Regions from separate parts of the Homo sapiens genome. Here region 2 is linked to region 1. The links come from fine-mapping of genetic effects on gene expression. A gene starts in region 1. The other region holds a variant in brackets. All regions are shown on one strand. Distances are between the middles of the regions.

Region 1 (10,322 bases):
TGCTTGAATATGAAATCAGGTCAAGAGCAAAGAGAAATATCTATAGAGTTTATAACCACAAGCCAGCTTTCACGTAATGAGTCATCTGAAGCTATGTGAGTCCTGCATGAGTGTAGCAGGTCATCAGTGCCTCACGTGCCCTTGGAAAGATATGTAGAACATTTTGTATCCACCATCCTTAAGACTTGTTCTCCCATATTCTGTGATCTGAAGATAACTGTCATAATTCCATATGTCACTGCCTTATATAAGAGAGAAAGAGGCATATTATACACTTGCATGTGTATTTATGTGTGTATGCGTGCATATATATATATATATATACACACACACACACACATACACAAAAGCCCTCTTCTTGAGGGCTTCTAGGAAAGGGTTTACTGCTTACATTTGCATATGCCCTCAATTATACAAGTCAGTCAAAGGAGAATAGAATCACTATGATTGTCTATTACTCAAAATTCATCCTTTGTGCTATGACCCTCCTCTTATGATGCACTGTTACACAATACCTGAAAAAAATAGAGTTCTTTCAGCAAATGCTTCTTAAAATGTGGTCTATTGAAAAGAATCATCAGCACCCTACGGAAAATTGTTAGAAAAGCAAATTCTCAAAGCACATCCCAGACTTACTGAATCAGAAAGACTAAAGGCGGGACTCTGCAAATTTAGTTCTAATTAGATTTCCAAGTGATACTTATGCATGTTAAAATATGGGAAGCACTATTTTACTCTGTCAAAGCAAATACTGAGTTTTATTTAGGCAAACAATAATTTATATGGTATCTGGATGTTTTCTAATTAAAGATGGTACCTTTCATCAGAGACTATAATAAAATGAAAATGAAGACAATTAAAACAAAATAAAGAACCCAAAAGCTGTAAACACCACACAGACTATGAAAAGATGAGAATTTACTGTAGCAAGTGAGATTTCAACAAATTTGAGAAAATGGAAGGGAGAGGCAAAAGTGAAACTGATTTTGCAAGACTCAGAAAGTCACAACCTAAAGTGTGTAAAAAGGAAAATAAGATTCAGGAGATCCACCTTAACTCCACAGAAATCCAAAGAGGCTGAGGACTTAGTGGTGTCAAATAAAAAGACAAAGTTATAAATTAGCAAGTAAATTGAGGATGCTTGAAGGTCTATTCACAAGCCAATTCACCCAGCCTAACTTACTACCTCCACAAAGAGAATGTGGTACCACCCTAAGCAAAGGATAGATTTCTTCTGTGTAAAATTGGCAGAAAAGTTTTGGGATTCAAAATACACTATTCATCAGGGAAGGAGAGGTTGAAAAATATAGAAAATGAAAGCTACTGGATTTCTACTGTCTCCTGCCCTTTTGCAGCAGAAGTCCATTAGTCAGGAAGGTAAACCCAAAGCAAATGCTTACCCTGTGGCAGGCACCACCCTAAACCTTTTATGTATTTTAACTTTCTGAAGTTTCAAAAAATGTTATGAAGTAGATACTATTACTACCCTCATTTATAGATTTCAAAAAGAGGCACGGAGGCTGTCAGGTAACTTTCATGAGGTCACAGGGATGGTAAGTTGAAGAGAAAGAGATCAAACCTAGGTGGTTCAGTTTTCCCTCTTCCTTTTTCCACCATGTTTTCTCAATTTCTTTTTCCACCTTCCTGTTCTCTCCTCTCACTTCTCTTAGTAAATCTTCAAACATGTGTTAACCTTGGTTAGCAAGATAATGGGAATAAAACTAGGGAGTGAAAAGGACAAGATTTCACTTCTTTTCTGCATTTGCAGCTTTATTGTTTGGAAAAAAATCACATTACTTTTGTAAATAACAAATTTTAAAGGAAAATAATTATTCCTTCAGTTCAATAAATATTTATTTATTACATGTCTCTATGCCAGCTGCAGGGCTGGAAAAATAAACATTCTAAACAAATCTGGTTGGTTTGATTTCAAAACATATTTAAAATATCATTTGGTATAGTCCCATTTATTTATTTTTGTTCTTGTAGCCTGAGCTTTTGGTGTGATAGTCAAGAAATCTTTGGCAAGGTAAATGTCAAGGAGCTTTTCTCTTATATTTTCTTCCAGGAGTTTAACGGTTTGAGGTCTTACATGTAGGTCTTTTATCCATTTTGTTTTTGATTTGTTTGTGTGGTGTAAGACAACAGTTCAATTTCATTCTTTTGTATGTGAAAATCCAGTCTTCCCAGCACCATTTATTCAAGAGACCATCCTTTCCTCATTGTGTTCTCTTGGGGCCCTTGTGAAAAATTAGTTGACCGTGTATGTTTGGATTTATTTCTGAGCTATTTTGTTCCATTGGTCTACATATCTGTTTTTATGTCAGTGCCATTCTGTTTTATATAAATTTGTAATATAATTTTTAATTAGGAAGTGTTATTTCTCCAGCTTCAATTTTTTTCTCAGAATTGCTTTGGCTATTTGAGGTCTTTTGTGGTTTCATACAAATTTGCATTGAATCTATATATTACTTTGGGTAGTATGAACATTTTAACAATATTATTTCTACATCAAACCAAAAACTTCTGCATGGCAAAGGAAACAATCAACGAAATGAAATGGCAACCTATAGATTGGAAAAATATATATCTGCAAATCATGTTCTCAGAAAAGGGTTGAGTTTCCAAGATTTATAAAGAACTTATACAACTCAATAGCAAGAAAACATATAACCCAATTTAAAAATGGGAAATGGACTTGAATAGACACTTCTTCAAAAATGACATAAAAATAGCCAACAGGTATATGAAAATGTGCCCAGCATCACTATTCATCAGAAAAATGCAAATCAAAATCACTATGAGATACTACGTCATACCTGTTAGGATTGGTATTATCAAAAAGACAAGAGATAACAAGTGTCGGCAAGGGTGTAGAGAAAAGAGAATCCTTGTACACTGTAGGTGGGAATGTAGGCTGGTGCAGCCGTTATGGAAAACAGTACGGAGGTTCCTACAGAAATTAAAAGTAGAACTACCATATGACCCAGAAATCCCTCTTCTGGGTATATACCAAAAGCAAATGAAATCACCGTCTCCTGAAGATAGCCGCACTCCCATGTTCATTGCAGCATTATTCAGAATAGCCAAGATAATAGAAATAATCTAGGTGTCCATCAATAGACAACTGTATAAATAAAGATACATATATTCCATGTTGTGTGTATACACACACACAGATACACACAAAATAGAATATTACTCAGCCTTATAAAAGAAGGAAATTCTGCCAGGTGCTATCACATGGATGGACCTGGAAGGCATTATGCTAAATGAAATAAGCCAGACACAGAAAGAAAAATTTTGCACAATCTCACTTATATGAAATTAAGAAAAGGTCAAATATATACAATAGTGGTTTATAGCAGGGGTCCCCAAGCCCCAGGCCACGGACCTGCACATGTGAGGGATCTAGGTGCATATTTCTTAGGAGAATCTAATGCCTGATTATCTGAGGTGGAGCTCAGGCAGTGATGCTAGCATCGGGCAGCAGCGGCAAATACAGATTAACATTAGCAGAGAGTTTTGACTGCACAGAGACCATAATAAATACATTGATTGCAGACTCATATCAAAACCCTATCAGTGAGGGGCAAATGACAAGTGACAATTAAGCTGTGTCTGGAGGCAGGCTTTATAGTGGAAAATTGATGTACTTCAATTGTACAGTTGCATCTGGTGGCAGGCTTTAAGTCAGAATCCAACACTTATTTTAGTCTGTGCATGGCCCACCCATTATTTTACCACTTCCATCTGCACCTCTTTTCCACACTGTGCACTTGTCTTAGTCACAGTTTTGCTAAGCCCACAAGCTAACCCTTGTGAAAAACAAGGGTTTTTGTTAAAAAAAAGTTTTTGTTAAAAACATCAAAGTGAGTGAAAAACAAACATCACTGGACAGCTTCTTTGAAAATGGGGAAAAACCCAAAGGTGAGATAACAGAAGACTCTAAGACTGCTAACAAAAAGAAAGCTGCACTTAAAGGAAAATGCCAAGAGTCCTACTTAAATTACAGGTTCATTGCAACAGGTGGTTCACATTCTCCAATCCTGCTTTGTATAATATGTGGTGACCAACTGCCCAATGAAGCCATGAAACCTGCAAAACTACTTTGCCACATGGAGACCAAGCACTCTGCATTAAAAGACAAGCCTTTGGAGTTTTTTGTTTTGTTTTGTTTAAAAAAAAAACAGAAACCATGAAACCATGAACACAAAGAACACATAGAAGCAATTATTGAAGGCCACCATGTCATCAAATGTGTCTGCACTGAGAGCATCATTCATAGTGGCTAACTGCATTGCTAAAGCTAAGAAGCCCTTTACTATTGGTGAAGAATTGATCCTGCCTGCTGCTAAGGACATTTGTTGGGAACTTTTAGGAGAGGCTGCAGTTCAAAAAATAGCACATATTCCTCTTCTGGCTAGCACCATAACTAGATGAATTGATGAAATAGCAGAGAATATCGAGGTACAATTGTTAGAGAGGATTAATGAGTCACCATTAATCCTCTCTAGCAATTGGTATGCAATCCAGGTTGATGAGTCTACTGATATTGACAACAAAGCAACAATGCTTTTTTGTGTGTGATATATTTTTCAGGAAGATGTGCACAAGGATATATTATGTGAATTTTTGTTGCCAATCAAAACCACAGCTGAAGAACTATTTGTCTTTGAATGATTACATATCAAGAAAACTGAATTGGTTATTTTGTGTAGGTATATGCATGGAAGGAGTGGCTGCCATGACTGGATGGCTTTCTGGTTTCACTACTCTGGTCAAAGAGACCAGAATGTGAGTCTATGCACTGTGTCATCCACAGAAAAATGCTGGCTAGCTGAAAAATGTTACCTGAACTTAACAATGTTTTGCAGGATGTGACAAAAATAATCAACCACATTAAAGTACATTTTCTTAACTCACATCTGTTTGTGCAGCTCTGTGAGGAGATGGACACTGGGCATGCATGTCTTCTCTTATACACAGAAATGAGATGGCTTTCTAAAAGTAGATCACTGGCTGAAATTTTTGAATTATGAGAGCTGCTCCAGAGATTTATTTTAGAAAATCAGTCACCATTGGCGGCACATTTCAGTGACACAGAAAGGGTTGCAAAACTTGCTTACTTGTGTGATGTATTCAACTCGATCTATGAACTCAACTTGTCGCTTCAGGAGAGAAGGACAACTGTGTTCAAGGAAGCAGATAAATTGGTTGCATTGAAAGCCAAACTGGAATTATGGGGGCAACGAATGAACATTGAGATTTTTGACATGTTTCAAACATTAGCAGAGATTTTGAAGAAGACTGAGCCAGCAGCTTCTTTCTCTCAGCTGATGCATGATCACCTATCTTAGCTTTCAAAAGAGTTCGAGCATTACTACCCAACCACAAAAGAACCCTGAACTGGGAATGAATGTATCCATGACCCATTTGTGAGTAAGTCAGGTGAATCGATTTTGTCCGTACTAGAAGAGGATCAATTGCTTGAGATCACAAATGATGGTGGCCTTAAAAGTATGTTTGAGACAGCTTCAAATCCCATGTTCTGGATTAAACTCAAGGTGGGATATCCTGAGATTGCCACAAAAGCACTGAAGAGTCTGCTTCCATTTCCAACATGCTATCTTTGTGAAGCAGGATTTTCTGCAGTGACAGCAACCAAAACAAGATTACGGAGTAGACTGGACATAAGCAACACACTTCTGGTGTCACTGTCTCCCACCGTTCCCAGATGGGACCTTCTAATTGCAGGAAAACAAGGTCAGGGCTCCCACTGATTCCACATTATGGTGAGTTGTATAATTATTTTATTATATATTACAATGTAATAATAATAGAAGTAAAGTGCGCAATACACGTAATGTGCTTGAATCATCCTGAAACCGTCTGCCACCCGGCCCTGGTCCATGGAAAAATCCTCTTCCGTGAAACTGGTCCCTGGTGCCAAAAAGGTTGGGGACCACTGGTTTATCCAGGGTCATCCAGGTTGGAGTGGGGTCAGGAGAAATGGGGAAATTTAGGTAAAAGTATACAAAGTTACAAACACGTAGGATGAACAAATGGGAAGACCTAATGTACAACATGAGGGCTATAGTTAATGATAGTGGTATTCAGGATTTATGCTAAATAAGTAGATTATAGCTGCTCTTGCCCCAAGGGGGGAAATGTGTAATTATAGGAGTTGATGGATATGTCATACAAATAACTTAAATACACAGAATAAAAACTATTTTAGTTTAAAAAGGAACAATATTTATAAAAAAATAAAGTGAGCTCGAAAACATTCAAATAACTGCTTAAAAATTAAAAAGTAATATCACATAATTTAATAGAAGGAAAGAAAGAGCAAGACAGCAAGAAAGAAAAGGCACCATAAAGAAAAACAATTTTGGCCCCTCCTCATTTGTAGTCTTAAGCTGCCTCTACTCCCTCGCCTTGAAAAGCCACGGGCTTCCGAGGGATGGAGGTCAAAGCCAGAGTAAAGAAAGTTCCCGGGGGAGGCCACTCCCCAGCTGATGACTTTCCAGTTCCAGTTAGTGTCGGAGTCCCAGTTCCTCTCCTTAACCACCGGACAAACGTCTCTGGAGTCTCTCCAATGAGCAAGAAAGCAAGTCGGGGGTAGGGGAGGGGCCTCACACCAGGGGGTGGGCGCAGTCCCTCCTCCAGCTCCTTCACCCTCCAGTAGTCTCGTGGGTCCCCGAGCGCCAGCGCGGGAACCGGGAAAAGGAAACCGTGTTGTGTACGTAAGATTCAGGAAACGAAACCAGGAGCCGCGGGTGTTGGCGCAAAGGTTACTCCCAGACCCTTTTCCGGCTGACTTCTGAGAAGGTTGCGCAGCAGCTGTGCCCGGCAGTCTAGAGGCGCAGAAGAGGAAGCCATCGCCTGGCCCCGGCTCTCTGGACCTTGTCTCGCTCGGGAGCGGAAACAGCGGCAGCCAGAGGTGCGCGGGCGGCTTTCTCTGCCGCCTCCTGGGGACTTGGGCGCGGGAACTGCGCGGAGCCTGCGCTGGGGCCAGGGCCGGGGTCAGGTGTGGAGGGCAACTTGTGGGGAACCGGCGCGAGGGCCCGCAGGTTGTGTTTGCTGCTCTGGGGGTGGAGGATGTGGGGTGAAGGTTGGGGCCAGAAATGCAAGAGGCCTCTGAAAGGGACCCTGGAAGTGGAGCAGGTACACGGCAAGGGGCCCCAGGCGGCCCAGCGGCACCCGGGCTCACCCCAGAACCATTCGAATGACAAGGGGTGCCCTGCCTGAAAACGCCTTGCGGGGCTCAGCTTCCCCTTAGCTACACTGCTTTACAGGTAGAGAGCGGCCCTGAATCCTGGGTAGAGTCTGGGCTCAGGAGCATGTGCCAGCGTAGTGGGGCTATTAGAAGGAATGGTTAATACAGCCTGCAAGCTGTCATTTATCAGTAAGTATTCAATGAAGTCCGCCGGAGCCCACATCTATGCTAGGCCCTCTACAATACCAGCTTAGGAAAGATAGTGGCGGTATCTAGCACGGTTCCTAAGACCATTAGCTCCAGTCAGGCTCCCCGACTTTAAATTCGGCCTCTACTGCTTCACGTCTGTGGACTGTCAGCCACTTTCTTCTTATATATGTTCTTTCCATTGCCTCATCTCTGAAATTGTGTAACTATTAAATGAGCTACAGAGTATTAATGTAAAATTCTTAGAGCAGTGCCTGGCGCTACAGAAAGTACTCAGTGAAAGTTAGCTCTTATTATTTTAAATATTTGACAAAGTTCCTGCTTCTCCAAGCTGATTCTCTGGTTCCCAGGTGGTTTCATTCATGCACTGTTATTCCTGGAAGTCTTGGCATGGCCACTTCCCAGTTCCAGGAACAGGCAGTCGTTGTTTTTTCTGGCTTATCACATTGAGATACATGGTTACTACAAGTGACACTTAAACGTGTCAGACAGTTTGGGGGCTCCCTTCTTGAACTTTTTCTAAGAGCAAACCTTTGTCTTAATGCCACCCTGTTTACAACAATAGTAGGGCTTTGAACAATGAGAAAATGCGGGGAAATGAAAAAGACATATAAAGGGAAAGAGTGGATTTATGCAATTGGATAGAAAAGTGGCATGTAAAATAGCTGGTTTATAGATCAAACTGCCTTTAGATCTGTAAAGGAGCTTAGAGTACATACAGGTGGAGAGACATCAGATGTGTGTGAGCAGACCCTTATGTACTTCTCCATCTTCATCTCTAAGAATGTCTCCCTCTTTTGCTCTGTAACCTCACTCGTCTTCCTTTACTTGAATGAGGGACGTTCCTCCAGCTCAGGAATTCTACCTATGGAGTTCCCTCTATCTATGATGCCCTCCAACACCCCACCCACCATACCTCCATAGACTAGTTGATTTGAGACTTCCTTCATCTCCTAGTCTGACTTTTCTTAAACCCCCTACCACCATCTAAGTTAGTGCCCCATAACCCTTTCTTATAGCAACATTAATTTTATTTATAGCACTTAGAGTATTTTTAATAATATATTTAATTCTTAATTGTCTGTCTCCCCTAGTGTCTAGGTATTGTGCTCTAGTGCCTGGTATAGTGCCTTGCATGCTCTATGCCTTCAATTAATTCCTTTAAAACCACACAAGCTTTATATTTAGTGAATATTTATATAGGAAGAATTTCTATGTGTATATATGTGTATCTGTGTATATACACACTGTATTGCACTGCCCTGAATAGTGCTAAATTAAAAAACCAAAACACTTTTTAATCAGAACTTAATAGTTGCACTCTTCAATTTTCCATATGTTCTTTTAAGAAGTGATTAGAAAAAAATGATGTCTCCATATGTTGTCTGCTGCTGTAAAAGAATACCTGAGACTTGGTAATTTATAAAGGACAGAAATTTATTTCTTACAGTTCTGGAGGCTAGGAAGTCCAACATAATCATGTGTTGCTTAAATACAGGAATACATTCTGAGAAATGCATCATGAGGCAATTTTGTGGTTGTGAGAACGTCATAGAATTTACTTACACAATCCTGGATACTATAGCCAGCCTACTATTTAGGCTGGGGTGGTGGGGTTGGGGGTGTTGAGGAGAGTCAGATTGAGAGCTGAGGGAAGTCTCAAATCAACTAGTCTATAGACGTGTGGGTGAGTGGGTTGGTGGAGGGCATTATAGACAGAGGGAACCTCACAGGTAGAAGTCCTGGGCTGGAGGGAACTTGGCTCATTCAAGAAAAGGAATGACCAGTGAGGTGGCAGATAGCCTACTAGACCTAGACTGTGTGGAATAAGGTGTTGCTCCTAGGCTAGAAACCTGTATAGCATGTACTACTGTAATGAATACTGTATGCAAGTATAATACAATGTCAAGTATTTATGTATCTAAACATAGAAAGGGTACAGTAAAAATAATCTTATGGGACCACCATCATATATGTGATCTGTTGTTGTGGTGCATGACTGTATGGAGGCACCAGCATCTTGTGAGGGTCTTCTTACTGCATCATCCCATGGTGGAAAGTGGAAGGGCAAGACAGCAAGAGAGAGTGGAACTTGATTTCCTTACAAGCCTACTCTGGCAATAACAAACCCACTCCCAAGATAACGACATTAATCTATTCATGAAGGTAGAGTGCTTATAAACTAATCATATTTTATTAGGCTCCACCTCCCAACACTGTTGCATTGGAAATTAAGTTTCCAACACATGAACTTAGCTCACACATTCTAACCATAGCACCTGGCCTAGTTAAAGCTAAGTGGCACAAGAGTAAATTGAAATTCAAGCCTTTTCTGTCTTACATAAGAAAGATAACCTTAAAAGAGTCTTTTAACAAATTTCACTGAAGGATGTCAGTCTTCCTTTTTTCAGTGAATTAGAGACATCGGTGCAAAGAATATGAATTATTAATCATCTTAATTCAGCTAGTTAGCAAGCTGTATCACATTTATTAAAATCACTTTTATTTCTATGGGTTTAGTTTCACCATTTATTAGGAGGAAAGGAAGCAAATTTGTGAGGGAGCTCTGGGTTGTCAGGAAAGGCTTTTCAGAGTAGTAAAGCAATCAAATGAGAATAACTGATTCAGTATTTGTTTCCTTTGTCTCTTTGGTTTACTTTTTAGTTTTGTAGAACACTTGATCACTACCATCTCACTTGGTCCTAGTTGATGTATCATCTACATTTTTATTCAAGGTTTAATATAAAATGCTATAAAAGGCTATCCTAAACTGGTTTTAAGCATATTTGTTTTGTTTGTTCAGCATAAAATACACAAGAGGATTTTTATGGAATGGCTCCTTGTTACAAGGTACTTTGCATTTATAATCAGCCACAGTCACCTCAGTTTCATC
Region 2 (10,322 bases), 74 kb after region 1:
GTTTCTGCTGTCTTTTGTTCAGCTATGCCCTGCCCACAAAGGTGAAATCTATAGAGGCTGTAGGCCTTGCTGAGCTGTGGTGGGCTCTGTCCAGTTCAAGCTTCCTGGCCACTTTGTTTACCTAGTCAAGCCTCAGCAATGGCTGACACCACTCCCTTAGCCAGGCTGCTGCCTCGCAGGTCAATCTCAGACTGCTGCACTAGCAGTGAGCAAGGCTCCATGGGTGTGGGACGTGCCGAGCCAGGCACGGGAGAGAATTTCCTAGTCTGCTGGTTGCTAAGACCATAGGAAAAGTGCAGTATTTGGGCCACGGTGTCCCTTTTTCCAGGTGCAGTCTCTCACGGCTTCCCTTGGCTAGGAAAGGGAAATCCCCCCACCCTTTGCACTTCCCAGGTGAGGTAACGCTCTGCCCTGCTTTGGGTCACCCTCCGTGGGCTGCACCCATTGTCCAACCAGTCCCAATGAGATGAACCAGGTCCCTCAGTTGAAAATGCAGAAATCCCCCATCTTCTGCATCGATCACGCTGAGAGCTGCAGACCAGAGCTGTTCCTATTTGGCCATCTTGGAACAGAACTCCAGCAACACTCTGGTATAAGGTGTCTGGTGACCTCTGTTTGCGGGGGTTCTCACCCAGCTGGGAGGCATGAGATCCGAGACCCACTTAACAAAGTACCCTGGCTGTCCCTTGGTCCAACAGGTGTGCTGTTCTTAGGGGAATCCCACTCATCTGGGCTGCCTGGATTCCTCAGAGCTACCAGGGGGAAAGACTAAGTCAGCTGGTCCATGGAGACCATGACTATCCTTCCCCCTAGGGGCTCAGGCCCAGGGAGACCAGAATTTTGGCCCTAAGCCCCTTGCTGGAGTGGCTGAAGTTTTTGCAGGGAGGCCCCACCCAGTAAGGAGGGATGCATCAGGGTCTGCCCTAAAGAGGCAGTCTGGTCGTGATCTGCCACAGCTGGTGTGCTGTACTATGGGGAGTGCCTTTTGAGTCTCCCAGGCACCAGCCGGGGAAATACAGTGGGCTGGAGCTGTAGTGATGGCTACTGCCCTTTCCTCCCAGTAGTTCAGCATCTTAGGCAGCTAGCAGCTGCAGTGAGGGCTGCTGTCCTTTTCCTGGGGAGCTCAGTTGTCTTAGGCAGCAGGCAGCTGCAGTGATGAAGGCTTCCCCTCCCCCTGGGAGCTCAGTAGTCCTAGGCAGATGCCAACTGAGTAGCTGTTGAGAATCTATGCAGCTCTGCGGTTGGGACCCAAGGCCCTGGTAGCATGGGCTCACAAGTGGGATCTCATGATCCATGGGTTGCACAGATCCATGGAAAAAGCACAGATCCCCAGGCTGGGTAGCATGAACACTCAGCGCCTCCCTTGGCTGGGGAATGGGAGCTCCCCCTGCCCCATGTGGCTCTCAGGTGAGGCGATGCACCACACTGCATTTCCTTACTCTCTGTGAGTCACACCAACTGCCTAGTCAGTCCTGATAGAACCTGAGGGTACCTCGGTTCCCAGTGCAGGATTCACACACTGTCTTCGTTCTTCTTGGTGGGAGCCTTTGATTGCAGCTGCTTCTTGTCAGCCTTCTTGGCCCAGTGCACCCCCCGGCGCCCCCGCTATATAACAGTTTTGGGAAATAATTAGTGGTAATTGTTTAACATGACAATTGAGTGAGGCCTTAATAATAGTTGGGGCATAGAAGAAGCTGACCAAAATCTCTTAAAAAGAAAATCTGGGGAATGAGATATTAATAGGGGCTTTTAAAAGTTCTGACATACTCCTGAAAATTTAGAAGGAAATGTGCACGTACAGAACTGTGCACATACCCAGAAAAGACCTGAAAAAGAAATAATCTCTCTCGTCTGGCTGACCTTAAGTTTCTGTGCAAGCAGTGAGAGAAAGCTAAGCCAATACCGTAAATCATCTATTGGATCTTTGAAATAGTGTCCCCAAACACAAAAAGGACCTTTTGGAAAAGGCTGGGAGATACACTTATGCAGCATATTTAAGGAAAACTATATCCATTTATTGAATGACTACTATGCTAACTGAATAGATGTCAGTGGTCACACATAATGAAGAAAATAGATTAATATAATTAGTTGAGGAAAGTAACCAAATGCACAATAGGAAAAACACCACCAGCAACAAAGCCTGGGGAGGAGGCATATACAGTTTCCAGAGTTGTCATATTATATTATTCTAAATATATGGTTTTCAACAAGTTATGAAGCATGTAAAGAAGTAGGAATGTAAGATGAATAGGGCCTGAAGTGAACCCCCAGAAAACTGCAGCAGCCCTACAGAAAAGGAACCTGACAACAACAAAAATGACCCCCGCAAAAATGGCCCCCACAAAATGGCCCCTACAAAAACCCCATGCAAGGGTCAGCAGCCTCAAAGACTGAAACTAGGCAAACTCATGAAGATGAGAAAGAATCAGTGAAAAAATGCTGAAAACCCAAAAGGCCAGAGTGCCTCTTCTCCCCCCAAATGATTGCAACATCTCTCCGTCAAGGGCACAGAACTGGACAAAGGATCAGATGGATGAATTGACAGGAGTAGGCTTCAGAAGATGAGTAATAGAAAACTACACTGAGCTAAAGGAGCATGTTCTAACCCAATGCAAAGAAGCTAAGAACCTTGATAAAAGATTAGAGGAATTGCTAACTAGAATAACCAGTTTAGGGAGGAACAAAAACCACCTGATGGAGCTGAAAAACACAGCACAAGAACTTCATGAAGCATACACAAGTATCAATAGTCAAATCTACCAAGCAGAAGAAAGGATATCAGAGTTTGAAATGCACCTTACTGAAATAAGACATGCAGACGAGAATAGAGAAAAAATGAGTGAAAAGGAATGAACAAAGCCTCCAAGAAATATGGGACTTTATAAAAAGACTGAATCTAAGATTGATTGGAGTACGAGGAGGAGACAGGGAGAATGAAAAGAAGTTGGAAAACACACTTCATGATATCATCATCCAGGAGAATTTCCCCAACTTAGCAAAACAAGCCAACATGAAAATTAAGGAAATACAGAGAACACCATTAAGATACTCCACGAGAAGATCAACCCCAAGACATATAATCATCAGATTCTCCCAGGCTGAAACGAAGGAAAAACTACTAAGGGCAACCAGAGAGAACAGCATGGTCTCCTGCAACGGGAAGCCCATCAGATAAAAACAGACCTCTCAGCAGAAACTCTACAAGCCAGAAGAGAGTGGGAGCCAATATTCAACATTCTTAAAAAAAAGAATTTCCAACCCAGAATTTTAACCCACATGTTAGAACCATGATGCAAAGTGAAATCGTCTTCTGCTACTGTTTCCCATAAAGCTGTGTTATACCTTTTCCCCCTTGGTGCCGTGGAAATCTTGGAGCTATTGAAAAGAAATAAAACCCTCCATGCAGAAGAGGACAACAATAAAAAAAGATAGCATGTTTTGAGTAAGAAATTGTGGAAAGAACAAAAATAAATACCCTCATAGATTCTATAACCACAAGTCAGTCTTCACATAAGTGTATATATGGGCTGTGTGTGTACATGTACTTATGCACATCACAGATACATATTAATATACATATACAAAAGTAAGCAGGAAACTCTTTCCTAGAAGTTCTCAATATGACTCTTCTTTAGCCAAATCTAAGTAATATAACCAAATGCATACCAATAACAGAGAAAGGAGGCTGGATTCATTATGACTGACAATTAACCAATATTTGTTCTTTGGGTTAGGACATTCCTTTCAAGAACATATTGTTCTTCAAGAACTGAGCAAAATAGAACACTTAGCAATGGTTCTTAAAGTGAAGTCCCTGGAAAACCATCATGAGCGTCACATGGGAATTTATTAGAAAAGCAAATTCTCAAGCCCCGTTCCAAATATATTGAATTAGAAACTCTGGATGTGGGAAACACATATTGAGTTTTAACAAGATTTCCAGGTGAATCTGAGGGATACTAAAATTTGAAAACCACTATTTTACCATGTAAGAGCAGATACTGAGTTTTGATTAGTTAACCAACAGTGTGTTTATGTTATACCTAGATGTTTTCTAATTTAAGATAGTACTTTTCAGCCAGGCGCAGTGGCTCATGCCTGTAATCGCAGCATTTTGGGAGGTCGAGGTGGGTGGATCACCTGATGTCAGGGGTTCAAGACCAGCCTGACCAACATGGCGAAACCCCATCTCTACTAAAAATACAAAAATTAGTTAGGCGTGGTAGCAGGTGCCTGTTATCCCAACTATGGGAGGCTGAGGTAGGAGAATTGCTTGATCCTGGGAGGTGGAGGTTGCTGCAGTGAGCTGAGATCGTGCCATTGCACTCCAGCCTGGGCGACAGAGCAAGACTCTGTCTTAAAAAAAAAAAAAAAAAAAGATAGTACTTTTCTTCAGGACTATAATACAATAAAAGTGAAGATAGTCAAAACAAACAAAACCCAAAGCTGTAATAAACCAAGGATGAAAAAAAGATGAGATTATATAGCAGGGCATAAGATTTCAACAAATTTGAGAATATGAAAAAAAGCAGATGTGGCAAATCATTTTGCAAGACACAGGAAGTCACAAAGGGTGTCTAGACAGATATAATAAGGAGATCCAATTTATTTCTACAGTACCCCAGAGAAAAGGAGGGATTGGTGATGCCAAATTAAGGAAAGGTTAAAAATTCTATGATGGGATCAGTGTCCTTATAAGGAGAGGAAGAAGAACCAGAGCTCTTTCTCTCTCTGCCATGTGAGGCCACAGCAAGAAAGGGACTGTCTGCAAGCCAGAGAGGCTTCAACAGATGATGATTTTACTGGTTCCCTGTCCTTGGACTTCTCAAATTCTAGAACTGTGAGAAATAAATGTCTGCTGTTTAAGTCACCCAGACTATGCCATTTTGCTGTTGCAACAGGAGCTAAGACAGATGTTGCTATTGTCTGAATGTTTGTGTCCACTCAAAATTTATATGTTGAAGCCTAATCACCAATGTGACATATTAGGAGGTGGGGCCTTTGTGAGATTAGGTCACGAGAATGGAACTCTCATAAATGGGATTAATACCTTTTAAAAAAAAATGAAAGAAAGAAAAATACAATCTTAGAGAGATCCCTCGTCCCTTCCACTTTGTGAGGACCCGGTGAGAAGATGCCATGTATGTGTTAGAATGTAGGCCCTTCTGCAGACACTGAATCTCCTGGCACCTTGGTGTTGGATTTGTCAGCCTCCAGGACTATGAGAAATAACTTTCTGTTGTTTATAAGCTACCCAGACTATGGTATTTTCTTTTAGTTGCCCTAATGAACTACATGAAAAGAAGTCTAAATGTAAATAGATACTTTCTCAATTTTAATACCTCTTTGAATAATTGATAGATTAATCAAACCAAATATTAGCTAAAGCAACAGCAAAACTAACTGACACAGCCAATTAGAATGAAAATACATGACTTGTACACAACTGCAGAATACACCTATTTCTCGTACAAAATATTTATAAAAATTGGCTGTGAACCAGAAGGTCATAATGTAAGTCTTAAAAATTTCAAATGACTGTAACCATACACAGCATGTGCTTGCACTACAATAAAATTACAAATAATAAAAAGACAACTAGACATTCCCAACTGCTTGGAAATAAGGAATAGACGTAAAGGAAGAAATCATAAAAATGTCCTGGGTACAAGAGGCAGTTTAAAATAAGATTCAAAGACCAGAAGTCAAAATGAAAAAATAAAAGTAAAAATCACTGAAAATAAAAATTTCTGTGTGGTGAAAGCAACCTTAAATAAGTTTCAAGCCAGAGACACAGTAGGCAAAAGAATTGTATCTTGGCCGGGCATGGTGGCTCACGCCTGCAATCCCAGCACTTTGGGAGGCCAAGGTGGGTGGATCTGAGGTGAGGAGTTTGAGACCAGCCTGGCCAACATGGGGAAACCCCATCTCTACTAAAAATACAAAAATTAGCAGGGCATAGTGGCATATGCCTGTAATCCCAGCTACTTGGGAGGCTGAGGCAAGAGAATTTCTTTAACCCGGAGGGTGGAGTGTGCAGTGAG[C/G]TGAGATCGTGCCACTGCACTCCAGTCGGGGCAACAGAGTGAAACTCTGTCTCAGAAAAAAAAAAAAAAAAGAATTGTATCTTATTTAACATACCCACAATATATAAAGACCACTAACAAATCAGCAAGAGGGAAAAAAATCCCAATCCAACAACAATAACAAAATGAGCATTATATTTCAGACAAATCACAGAATAAAACTGTAAAATAATTAGTAATCATATGAAAAAGTCCTCAATCTCATTAACAATCAGAATCAACAAACAAAAAATAAGATAATGCTTGCCATTCACAGTAGGAAACATTTAGAATTGGTATTCTAGAATCGAAGAGGTGTGGAAAAATTAGAAATCCCATGACTTATTGGTAAAAGAATAAAATGTTTTTTTTATTGTATACAGAAAGATATGTGCAAAGATGATGACTACAGCACAATTTATAATTGATAAAACTTGGAAACAGTACCTAGATTATTAGATCAATGACACAGTTCTGTATTAGAGGGATAGAGATTTCCAAGATGCACTGTTAGGTGAAAAACACATCAGAGAAGAGCTGTATAAAATAATCCTCTTTATGTAAAAAAAAAACAAAAAAACAAAAACACTGTGTAGCTGTGTATATACTTATTTGTATGTATATAACATTTACTGAGCGCTTACTCTATGGCAAACATCATTCTAAATTCTTTATATATTTTAACTTCCTTAATCATCATAAAAATCCTCTGTGGTAGATACCATTACTACTCTCATTTTACCGATTAGAAAACAGGCAAAGAGATTGTCAAGTAATTTTCACAAGTCACAGGCACAGGAAGTAAAAAAGAAAGAATTCAAACTCAGGTAGCTCGATTTTCCTTCTTCCTTTTTCTATCTTATTTTCTCAATTTCTTTCTCCACCTTCCTCCCTTCCATTCCCTTTTTTCTTCCCTCCCCCCACCTCTCTTAGTGTGTCTTCAAATGTTTGTGTCAACCTTGGTTAGCAGGGTAATCGGGAGAACAGCACCGGGAATGGAGAGGGTGAGGTTTCATTTTTCTCCATATATGGTGTTATTGTTTGGAAGATCATGTGTTTTTGTTTGTTTGTTTGAGACGAGTCTTGCTCTCTCTCCCAGGCTGGAGTGTAGTGGCTGGATCTCGACTCACTGCAACCTCTGCCTTCCGGGTTCAAGCGATTTTTCTCCTGCCTCAGCCTCCCCAGTAGATGGGATTACAGGGGCACACCACCACACCTGGCTCATTTTTGTATTTTTAGTAGAGACGGGGTTTCACCATGTTGTCCAGGCTGGTCTTGAACTCCTGGTCTCAGGTGATCCGCCTGCCTCGGCCTCCCAAAATGCTAGGGTTTCAGGCGTGTAAATAAATTTTTAAAAAATCAGTAGAAACGTCAGTGCAATATGTATTTATTTATTGCATGAGGGTGTGCCAGTTGCAGGCACACCCTGAAAAATCAAAGGCGCGTCCTGAAAAATTAAACATTCTACACGCCTCATCATTTTCACTCTTAACTTAAAAATGCCTTTTGTTGGAAAGAAAAGGGAGAAGGGCAAGGGCTAGAGATAAAATAATCTCGACCGCTCCTCTTTTGTAGTCTAAGCTCCCTCACCTTGAAAAGCTACAGGCTTCTAAGGGATGGAGGTCAAGAGCAGAGTTAAGGAAGTTCCCGGGGTAGGCCACTCCCCGCCTGATGATTTTCCAGTTCCAGCTGGTGTCGACGTCCCAGTTCATCTGTGCCCTTAACCACCGGAGAAACGTTTCCGGAGTCTCTCCAAAGAGCAAAAAAGGGGACGGGGATGGGGAGAGGGAGACGGGACGGGCTGGGCGGCAGCTGCGCGTCGCACACGGCGTGGGGGGGTGGGTGCAGTCGCGCCCCCAGCTCGGCCGCGCTCCAGCAGCAAAGCCGGATCCTCTGAGCCCGCGCAGGGACCAGGGGAGGGAAGCCTTGTTGTACCCTTGGGGTCCAGAAACCTAAACTAGGGGCTGCTGCAGGTGTAGACTCTGAGGCTGGTCCAGGCCCCTTTTCCGCCGACTTCCGGGAGGGCTGTGCAACAGGTGTGCCTGGCAGTCACGGGGCAGACGGGAGGAAGCCACGCTAGGACCTCGGCTCGCTCAGGGCTGTGCGGGAGCAGCTGCAGCCACGGGTAAGGGGGCGGCTTTCTCAGTCGCCTCCCTATGGGACTGGGGTGTGCCTGGCTAGTGGGGACGATGCTCCGCCCCATAATTGTGTTTGCGTCAGAGGGCGGGGCAAGGGCCCAATGGGCCGCGGGAAGCGACACCTGAAGTGGAACGGAAACTCGGCAAGGGGCCCCAGGCGGCCCAGCTGTACCCTGGCTCACACCAGAACCGTTCGAATGACAAGGGGTGTCCTGCCTGAAAACGCCTTGCGGGGCTCAGCTTCCCCTTAGCTACACTGCTTTACAGGTAGAGAGCGGCCCTGAATCCTGGGCAGAGTCTGGGCTCAGGAGCATGTGCCAGCATAGTGGGGCTATTAGAAGGGACGGTTAATACAGCCTGCAAGCTGTCATTTATCAGTAAGTATTCAATGAAGTCCGCCAGGAGCCCACGTCTATGCTAGGCCCTCTACAATACCAGCTTAGGAAAGATAGTGGCGGTATGTAGCGCGGTTCCTAAGACCATTAGCTCCAGTCAGGCTCCCCGACTTTAAATTCGGCCTCTACTGCTTCACATCTGTGGACTGTCAGCCACTTTCTTCATATATGTTCTTTCCATTGCCTCATTTCTGAAATTGTGTAAGTATTAAATGAGCTACAGAGTATTACACTGAAATTTGGCACATTGGGAGAATGTGAGATTTTTTGTTTGTTTTTCAACGAAATAGGAACATAAATGCAACGGACATGAATCATGAATAATTTCAATTCAGCTAGTTACTGAGCTGTACAGCATTAAGTAAACATTTTATCTTTATGGGCTTAGTTTTCTCATTTATAAAGAAGAAAGGAAAACTCCTATTTGTGAGGGAGGTCTGGGTTGTTAGGAAAGGTTTTTGAGCAGTAATTAATGTGTGTTAATGTAAAGTTCTTAGAGCAGTGCCTGGCACTACAGAAAGTACTCAGTGAAAGTTAGCGTTTATTATTTTAAATATTTGACAAAGTCCCTGCCTCTCCAAGCTGACTCTCTGGTTCCCATGTGGTTTCATTCATTCACTGTTATTTCTGGAAGTCTTGGCATGGCCACTTGCCAGTTGCAGGAACAGGCAGTCGTTGTTTCTTCCCGCTTATGACACTGAGATACATGGTTAGTACCAGTGACACTTAGAAGTGTCAGGCGGTTTGGGGGCTCCTTTCTTTCTTGAACTTTTCCTAAGAGCAAACCTTTCTCTTATTGCCACCCTGATGTTTACAATAGAAGGGTTTTGAGCAATGAACAAGCACAAGGAAATGAAAAACACATACAAAGGAAAATGAGTGGATTGCTGCAGTTGGATAGACAAGTGTAAAATACCTGGGTCTCACTGTACATGAAGCAGCCTTCAGATCTGTAAGGGAACTATTCTTACTGACTGAAAAGAGCAAAATAATACTGTACACTCATTGTTGAATTAACAAACACAGATTAAGTGGCTTGTCTTGGATAAGACAAACCAAGCTCTGGCCTTTGAGGTCTTAAAGTGCAGGTAGAGCGACTTTAAACATTTGTGAACTGGCCCTTGTGCACCTTTCCATCCTCATCTCTAAGGGTCTGTCCATCTTTGGCTCTGTAATTTCATAAATTTTCATTTCCCGAATAAGCCCAGTTTCCTGCAGCTTAGGACTTCTACTAGTGAGCTTCCCTCTGTCTATAATGCCCTACCACGCCCCTCATACATCCCTATGGCCTGGCTGATTCTAGACTTTTTTCAACTCTCCGCTCTGACTTTCCTGACAATGCCACCACTACTCCAACTAAATCAATGACTCCATATCCTTTTTATTGTACCATTATTTGTATTCATAGTGCTTAATGTATTTGTATATGTACAAATACATTTGTATTGTTATATATGTGTTATCCATAATATATTTATAATAAATTTAATTAATATAATGTGCTGGAATATATTTAATTTTATTAACTGCCTGACTCCTCCATTTTTTAGTGCCTGTACAGTGCCTTTCATGCTCTATGCCTTTGGTTAAGATTCCTTGAATATTAATCAAATGGTAGTAATTAGATGGTAACCAAATCTTTTAAGTGCATAAAATTTACATATCATGTAAATATATTATTCAACTAGATTAATATTCAAGGGAGGTCTGGGTTGTTGGGAAAA

Evidence for each region. PIP is the estimated chance that this variant, and not a neighbour inherited with it, causes the effect.
Region 2: its variant is fine-mapped to the expression of PLSCR1 in tibial artery (GTEx, PIP 0.99).

Annotation. Positions count from the first base shown.
Region 1 is chr3:146,541,091-146,551,412 of GRCh38, reverse strand. PLSCR1 (phospholipid scramblase 1) reads left to right here and starts at 6,806. Exons shown (of 9, transcript NM_021105.3): 1 at 6,806-6,946. RefSeq lists an enhancer at 6,477-6,956.
Region 2 is chr3:146,467,363-146,477,684 of GRCh38, reverse strand. PLSCR2 (phospholipid scramblase 2) reads left to right here and starts at 8,124. Exons shown (of 8, transcript NM_001395437.1): 1 at 8,124-8,190. RefSeq lists an enhancer at 8,066-8,135. The variant C/G (reference allele first, on the strand shown) is at 6,048.